Linked DNA regions of Homo sapiens. The protein of the gene in region 2 purifies or fractionates together with the protein of the main gene of each other region. This does not show direct contact. Each region holds a gene or a part of one and is shown on either strand. Other genes may lie near its edges.

Evidence for each region.
Region 1: the proteins of ETV5 (region 2) and MYH14 purify together in Homo sapiens (affinity purification with mass spectrometry, with the first as the bait; one large-scale study listed by BioGRID). This does not show direct contact.

What each region holds. Positions count from the first base shown.
Region 1 is NC_000019.10:50,280,020-50,283,838, reverse strand, and holds part of MYH14 (myosin-14), read right to left. Parts: intron 3,803-3,819; coding exon 3,698-3,802; intron 3,609-3,697; coding exon 3,456-3,608; intron 2,246-3,455; coding exon 1,997-2,245; intron 1-1,996. UniProt on the Homo sapiens protein: Cellular myosin that appears to play a role in cytokinesis, cell shape, and specialized functions such as secretion and capping.
Region 2 is NC_000003.12:186,067,304-186,071,122, reverse strand, and holds part of ETV5 (ETS translocation variant 5), read left to right. Parts: intron 1-3,819. UniProt on the Homo sapiens protein: Binds to DNA sequences containing the consensus nucleotide core sequence 5'-GGAA.-3'.

The DNA.
Region 1 (3,819 bases), on a different chromosome or scaffold from region 2:
GGCCTCCCAAAGTGCTGGGATTACCAGGCATGAGCCACCGTGCCCGGCCCATAAAGAATTTTCAAAATTCAATAATAGTAAAACAAACAACATTAATTAACAAATAGGCAAAAGATCTGAACAGAAGCTTCAGCAAATAAGATATATGGATGGCAAATAAGCATATGAAAAGATGCTCAACGTCACTGGTCATTAGGGAAATGTTAATTAAAACCACCTTTGAGAAAGACTAAGGTTTTATCCATAACTAGAAAAAAACTGGAAAAAAACCCAAATGTTCATCAAAAGGTTAATGAATATCAAAATGTGGCTGATCTATACCACAGGAATAATATTCAGCAGCAAAAATACATTATTGATACATGGAATACATTATTGATATGCAAAAATATGGATGGATCTCAGACTAATTATTTTGAGGCTGGGTGCGGTAGCTTACTCCTATAATCCCAGCACTTCGGGAGGCCGAGGTGGGTGGATCACTTGAAGCCAGGAGTTCGAGACCAGCCTTGCCAAAATGGTGAAACCTCGTCTCTATTAAAAACACAAAAATTAGCCAGGCATGGTGGTGCACACCTGTAATCCCAGCTACTTGGGAGGCTGAGGCACGAGAATCGCTTGAACCTGAGAGGTGGAGGTTGCAGTGAGCTGAGATCGTGCCACTGCACTCTAGCCTTGGTGACACAGCGAGACTCTGTCTCAAAAAAAAAAAATTATTTTGAGTAAAATAAGCCCATCCCAAAAGAGATTTATGTGAAAATAATTTATATAAAATTCCAGAAGATGCCAAAAATAATAAAGCTTCAATGACCTGTGGAAGAGTATTACAATCAAATCATATGTATTTGGAGTCCAAGAAGAAGGGGAAGGAGAGAGAGTGGGAGATAAAAATATTTGAAGAAATAATGGCTGAAATGTTCCACATTTGATCAAAAACATCAACCCACAGCTACAGGAAGCACAGTGAATCTAAAGCAGGATAAATACAAAAAACCCACAGCTGGGCATATCACAGTCAAACCACTAAGAACCAAACATAAAGAGAGAAATCGTAAGTCAGCTAGAAAAACATACTGCACCACCTACAGGGAAATGACAATTTAAAAAAATTTTTTTTAATTTTTTATTTTTTTTTTGAGATGGAGTCTTGCTCTATCACCCAGGCCGGAGTGCAGTGGCACGATCTTGGCTCACTGCAACCTCCGCCTTTCCAGTTCAAGTGATTCTCCTGCCTCAGCCTCCCGAGTAGCTAGGATTACAGGCGCACACCGCCATGCCCAGCTAATTTTTTTGTATTTTAGTAGAGACGGGGTTTCACCGTGTTGCCCATGCTGGTTGTGAACTCCTGAGCTCAGGCAATCCGCCCGCCTTGGCCTCCCAAAGTGCTGGGATTACAGGCATGAGCCACAGTGCCCAGCTTCACACTGCATTTTCTAAATGAATAAAATAAAGCACAGAGAGGTTGAGCAATTTGCCCAAGCCACACAGCCATCAAGAGGCCGAATTGGGATCTGAACCTCAGGATTGCCTGATCTGAACTCTCTAAGGTTCTGTGATTTTTATTTCATCCTCAGGCTGCCAGATGCTTGGTATTATTGCCATTTTCCAGATGGGCGAACTGAAGCTGAGATGGAAAAAGCAACTTGCCTGAGGTACCCCGTGAATCAGCAGAAGTGAGATGAGTTATTTGATTTAATTCTCATAAGCAATCTCTGGGGTACTGAAGGTATTCGTATATTTTGTCATCCAAAAACCAGGGCAGCTCTGAAAGTAAAAGTGGGTGCTACGAGGAATTATGCTGTGGCAAGAGGCATGAATCAGGACAGAGGGATGTCCTATTTTACAGAGGCCCAGAGCAAAGAAGGGTCTTGCTTCCTGGTCCACTACAACTGCCTAGTTGAGCCGTGACAGCACGGATTACTGGTTCCTCACAACGACCATGGGAAGCGTAGATGGACTTGCTGATTCCCCGGCTGGGTGAACTGAGGTGCCCCACCTGGTCAAACTTGCGCTGCTTCTTCTCCAGGGTGCTCACAAGCTGCCGCTGCTGCTCCAGGTCCATGGTGGCGTCGTCCAGCTCCTGCTGCAGCCGGCGGCGGCCCCGCTCCAGCCGATCCACGGTCTCTGTCTTTTCTGCCAGGCGCTGGGTCAGGGCCTCGGCCTCCCGGGCTGCCCGGCGCCGTGCCTCCTCCCCTGCCTCCAGTGCCCCTGCCTCCTCCTCCTGGCGCCGCCGCCACTCGGAAAGCTGAGGGGAGGAGAGAGAGGGTGGTTGGTGGTCACGGCCATGAGTGACCAAGGTGTAAGCTGGTGGTGCTCCATTTCCAGGATGAAGAGACTGAGGCCTGAAGAGGGAAAGGGGTCATTCTGCTGGGCTCTTCTGCCTCTGAGTGGTGTGAAGTTGTGAATACTATGAGCCCTAGTTCTTCCAGGGAATTAAAATTACTCCCTCCAAGATGCAGAGGTGAATCAGACCTGGAGTCTTTCCTGGGGAGCCCCTCGGCTGCTGGGGGAGACACAGAGTCACAGCCAGGGTGATAGGGGTTAAGGTAGCAGTATGGGAGCTATGGAGGTCCACAGGAAGTGCCCAGAATCTGTTTAGAACATTCAGGAGAAACTTCCTGAAGGAGGAGCATTTGAGATGGGTCTTGAAGTATGCATAGAAGTCTGCCAGTTGAAGGATATCTGCAGGCACGTACCATCACTCATTCATTCAATAGGCATTTCTCAACGCCTACCATACATCAGGCCCTATATCAGGCTGTGCTACAGACCTGGATCTAACTCTGATGGGATTCTAGTTTGAAGGGGCTCTCAGTCTGGTGGGGAGACTCATGGGCAGAGACAGTCCCAGCCCAAGGTGACTGGAGTTGGGACAGAGGAGAAAGAGAAGACGGGTCAGGAAACTTCCCACAGGGGAGCCTAATGCTAAGTCTGGAAAAATAAAAGGTTTTTTTCAAATAAAATAGGAAAGTAGAGATAGAGATGAATACAGCTAAAGGCAGAGGAAGGACCAGAGATTGCAGGGCCTCAATGCCTGACTGAGAGGCATGGACTTTGTCTAGGAGTACTGGGGAGGCGTGGGAGAGCTGTGAGCAGAGGAGGGACAGGGTCAGCTCCAGGTAAAGAAAGAAGCTTCTGGGGCTGTGCAGGGGATGAGCTGTTAGGGGAGAGGCTGGAGGCCCAGAGGCCAAGAGGAGGATCTAGATGGGAGAGGACGGCACTGGAGCTGGGGCTGAGCTGGAGCTGGGACAAGGGATGAGGCTGAGAGTCAGGGGTCAGGACAGCCAGGGCTGGGCATGGGCTGTGGGGGGTAAGGGGGAGTCAGAGATGAGAAAGGCACCCATGGGTCTGGCCTATGAGAAGGTGGGCAGCATGGCCATCCCTGAGCTGGGGAACCCAGGAGGAGCAGTGAGGGGGGCTGTGCCTCCCTGAAGGTCTTACGTAGGGCTGCTCACCTGGGCCTGGGCAGTCTGCAGTTCACGGCCCGCCCGTTCCCTGGCAGCTGCCTCCTCCTCCAGCTGCTCACGCAGCCCGGCTGCCTCAGCCTCCATGGCTCGCACCCGGGACCCCAAGGCCAATTTCGCCCTGGTCTCCTCCTGCAGCAGCTCCTGTAGATGGAGGAGACGGCAATGTCAGGTGTGGCTGGGAGGACAAGGAGGGGAGGGTGACGGTGGAGCCGAAGGGCAGGCAGGGTCACCTGGGCATCGTGCAGCTGGGCTTCTGTGCTGCTCAGCTCCTTGCTAAGACGGATGGTTTTGGACTCAGCCTCGTTCAGCGCCCCAGACACATTCTCCAGTTCAGCCTGCAGGGAAGGGACGG
Region 2 (3,819 bases):
TTCATAACGTAAACCAAATGTTGGGAGTGTGGGTGAGCTCGTGGGAGGAAAGGCGCTATATAAATCTGACAAATAAATAAATAACTAGTTCTTTAAATAAACTGGCACCGAAAAAGCCTTAAACTGTGACCTATTGAATTTAGGCTTATTCGGAGTCAGAAGTCCCTTTGCTCACCAAATGTGAGTTCCTTACACGTGCACTCTGTTGGGCTAATGGTGGGAGTGGATGGAAGGGAGGAGGTTAAGGGGAGGAAGAGGAGGTTTGGTAGGAACCAGGCTGTGCCTTCACTGAAAGTGATTGCCTGCCTTGGTAAATTAGAGGCATCTTTGTTGTAGCTGTATTATGTATACAACACATTCTTAGATACTTCAAAAGGACTGGAGAAGGGAGGGTGGTTCAAGTGAAGGTCAGTGAGTAAAGTTCACAGGATGTATTTTGAGGACAAGGACTGAATGACTTCACTAATCTCTGCACATAAAAGACATTATCAGCAGCAAGCTCTGAGAATCTTTCTTCCAAATATGTTGGCTTTGTGACCTACCCCTGAGATCCCCCTTGGCCACTCCTGCTGTCTCAAGACAAACCAGTACGGAACAATCCCAATTATAGAATCTGTTCTGCAGATCACAGGCCTCTAAGCTTTGCGCATCCTTAAAGTTATGCCGCGGGGAGGGGATGAGGTTGCTGGCTAGTGCCCATGTGGAAGTACCTTTTCCTGAGGAGGCCATACCAGGCCAACTCTAGAGTTTCATTCTGGAAGGTGAGAAAAGATGAGCACTAAGCGGAAGTGAGGCCACCAGCCTGCCAGCTGCAGAGGCTCTGGTTACAGAACTGAGCGGCACATGCCATCTCGGAGCTATCAAAGGAACTGATTTCTGGAGGTCACCTTCGAAGGTGCTGGGATGGTGGCAGAGGGGAAAGGGAGAGAAAATGGAAGGCGTTACTACCATTCCTTTCAAGTAGCACAAGATGTGGGCACTTTACAAAAATAAGGCCTTAAGAATATCTTCGGCCGGGCGCCGTGGCTCACACCTGTAATCCTAGCACTTTGGGAGGCCGAGGCGAGCAGATCACTTGAGGTCAGGAGTTCGAAACCAGCCTGGCCAATGTGGTGAAACCCTATCTCTACTAAAAATACAAAAAAAAAATTAGCCAGGCATGATGGCAGGCACCTGTAATCCTAGCTACTTGAGAGGCTGAAACAGGAGAATTGCTTGAACCCAAGAGATGGAGGTTGCAGTGAGCCGAGATTGTGCCACTGCACTCCAATCTGGACAAGAGCGAGACGCCGTCTCAACAAAAAATAAAAAGAATACCTTCATCAGCTGGGTACCGTGGCTTTTGCCTGTAATCCCAGCAAACTTTTGAGAGGCTGAAACAGGCAGATCACTGAGTCCTGGAGTTCAAGACCAGCCTGGCCAACATGGTGAAACCCCGTTTCTACTAAAAATCGCAGCTACTTGGGAGGCTGCGGCAGGAGAACCACTTGATCCCGGGAGGCGGAGGTTGCGGTGAGCTGAGATCGAGTCACTCGAGTCACTGCACTCCAGCCTGGGTGACAGAGCAAGACTTTTTTTTAAGTCTTTTTTTAGACTTTTTTTAAAAAAAAAAAAAAAAAAACAACTTCGTCTCTCTTTTCTGAAAGAATTCCCTTTAGGTTTGCGGCATGCTGCCGGTGCCCATGTTCTAAACGTCAAGTGTAAACCTGAGACGGGAATTTACACTTCTTCAAAGACCATTGAAAGGTTTCTTGAAGAAGTTGTGCCGTAAGGCATTCAGCGCCCCATGAAAGGCTATCAGCCCACTGAACCTTCAGTAGTTGGTAAAACTTGTTTAAGACATTGGCCAGGTGGATTCTGAGGCTTTTGATGTCTGGGATAAAAGGATAAGTACATGTAAATTGCCCAGTAGTTTTCATATTATAAAATGATCTTACCGTGCTGCTTTAGGTAGAGTAGTAAAGGCAGTATATTGTGCTGTGCTATACCCTGATGTAAACAGTGTTCTATCTGTACACAGATCTCTTCAGTTTAAGATTGTAAATCTTGATGTTCTAGAAATCTGCTGACCACCTGTTCCCACACATTGATTCAAATCAAATTCAAACTATTTTATTAAAGCTATTCAAGAATTCTTTGAATTAATAGAATTCAAGCTAAAAGTAGAGAATAAGACCTTAATATTACAGGATTGTATTATTTTTCCTTGAAGCTTGGCTCCTACTTTCTAACTGAGGGTATATATTCACAAATGCTTTTCTTTATACACATAGATTAGTGCTTCCTGTCTGTTTCATGGACTGAGAGTTCACACATCTCCAGCCTTCCACAACCACCTTCCTAAACTCTATAGTCTGTCAATTATGGCTGTGGCAGAAACCATACTTTACAGACATGATTGTATTTCACCATTTCAGGAGCATTTGGAGGATAATACATCCCCATGTCACAGATAAGCAAACAAAGCCAAGAAACTTTGCCTTTGGTCACTTCCCTACTAAGGCACGGCAGGCTTTCCCTTCTACACTGCACACCCAACAGGGAAAGGGCAGCTGGCACACATCTGGATTTATCTGACAGCTGAAGAGTGTTAAGGAAACTCGACTAGTAGCAACAGGTTTTTATTCTATCTTGTTAAAAAACAGTGCATATTTATTATCAAACTATAGATGAGCAAAAAAAGAAAATCACCTAAAATTATAACCACCCCACAGATAGGCAGTGTTAATATCTAAATGTCAGTCTTTCTGTGGTTTTATATGACACCATACTACTACTTTTATTTTTGCTAAGCTTTGATACTCTACGTACTGTTTAGCAACCTTCCTTAATATGTCAAAAATACCTTTCCAAGACCTTATATATTTACATATTATGTAATTTCTAATGGTTGCTTTCAACCAAATGACTGTATCATAATATATATAGCCAGTTTCCTTGTTAGACAGCTGCATTGGTGACCATCTTTGTAGTTATACCTGATCATCTGTGACTGAATTGCTGTTCAGGTACCTGGCACAGAATTAGTAACTGCCTGCTCATCTTCCAAGCTAAAAGGAAAAACACTTCTCTTCTGACTTTGTTACTTTTTTAATTACTAATGAGTTAAACTTTTTGTTTATGACCATTCCTATTCTGTAAGGATATTCCTGTTTATGTCCTTTGCCCATTTTTTTCCTCTTGAGATATTCATCTTTTGTTAATTTCTAAAAGCTCTTTTTGCCAACAGTGAGATTCCTGTATCTGTGGAGATTTTTCCTCAGTTTTACTTTTGGTTTTGTTTCTGGTGTTTTCTGACTACTGCAGATTCTTTCCCCCTGGTTTGATGTGTTTCTTTTGGTTTTGTTTCCGATGTCTTTTTAAGTTATAGAAATTTATACAGTGAGGTATATCCAGGTTTATCTTGATGATTTCTGCTGTTGGTATGATACTTAGGTTTTCCCTCACTCCCAAGTTTTGTAAGTTTTCATATATATTTACTTTCATATGATGGTTTCACTTTTTTTTTTTTTTGAGACAGTCTTGCTCTGTTGCCCAGGCTAGAGTACAGTGGCGCAATCTCGGCTCACTGCAACCTTCACCTCCTGGGTTCAAGTGATTCTGATGCCGCAGCCTCCTGAGTAGCTGGGATTACAGGTGCACAAAACCACGCCTGGCTAATTTTTTTAGGTTTTTTTGTTGTTGTTTATTTTGAGACGGAGTCTCGCTCTGTCACAAGGCTGGTGTGCAGTGGCGCTATCTCAGCTTACAGCAAACTCCGCCTCCCAGGTTCAAGCGATTCTTCTGCCTCAGCCTCCAGAGTAGCTGGGACTACAGGCG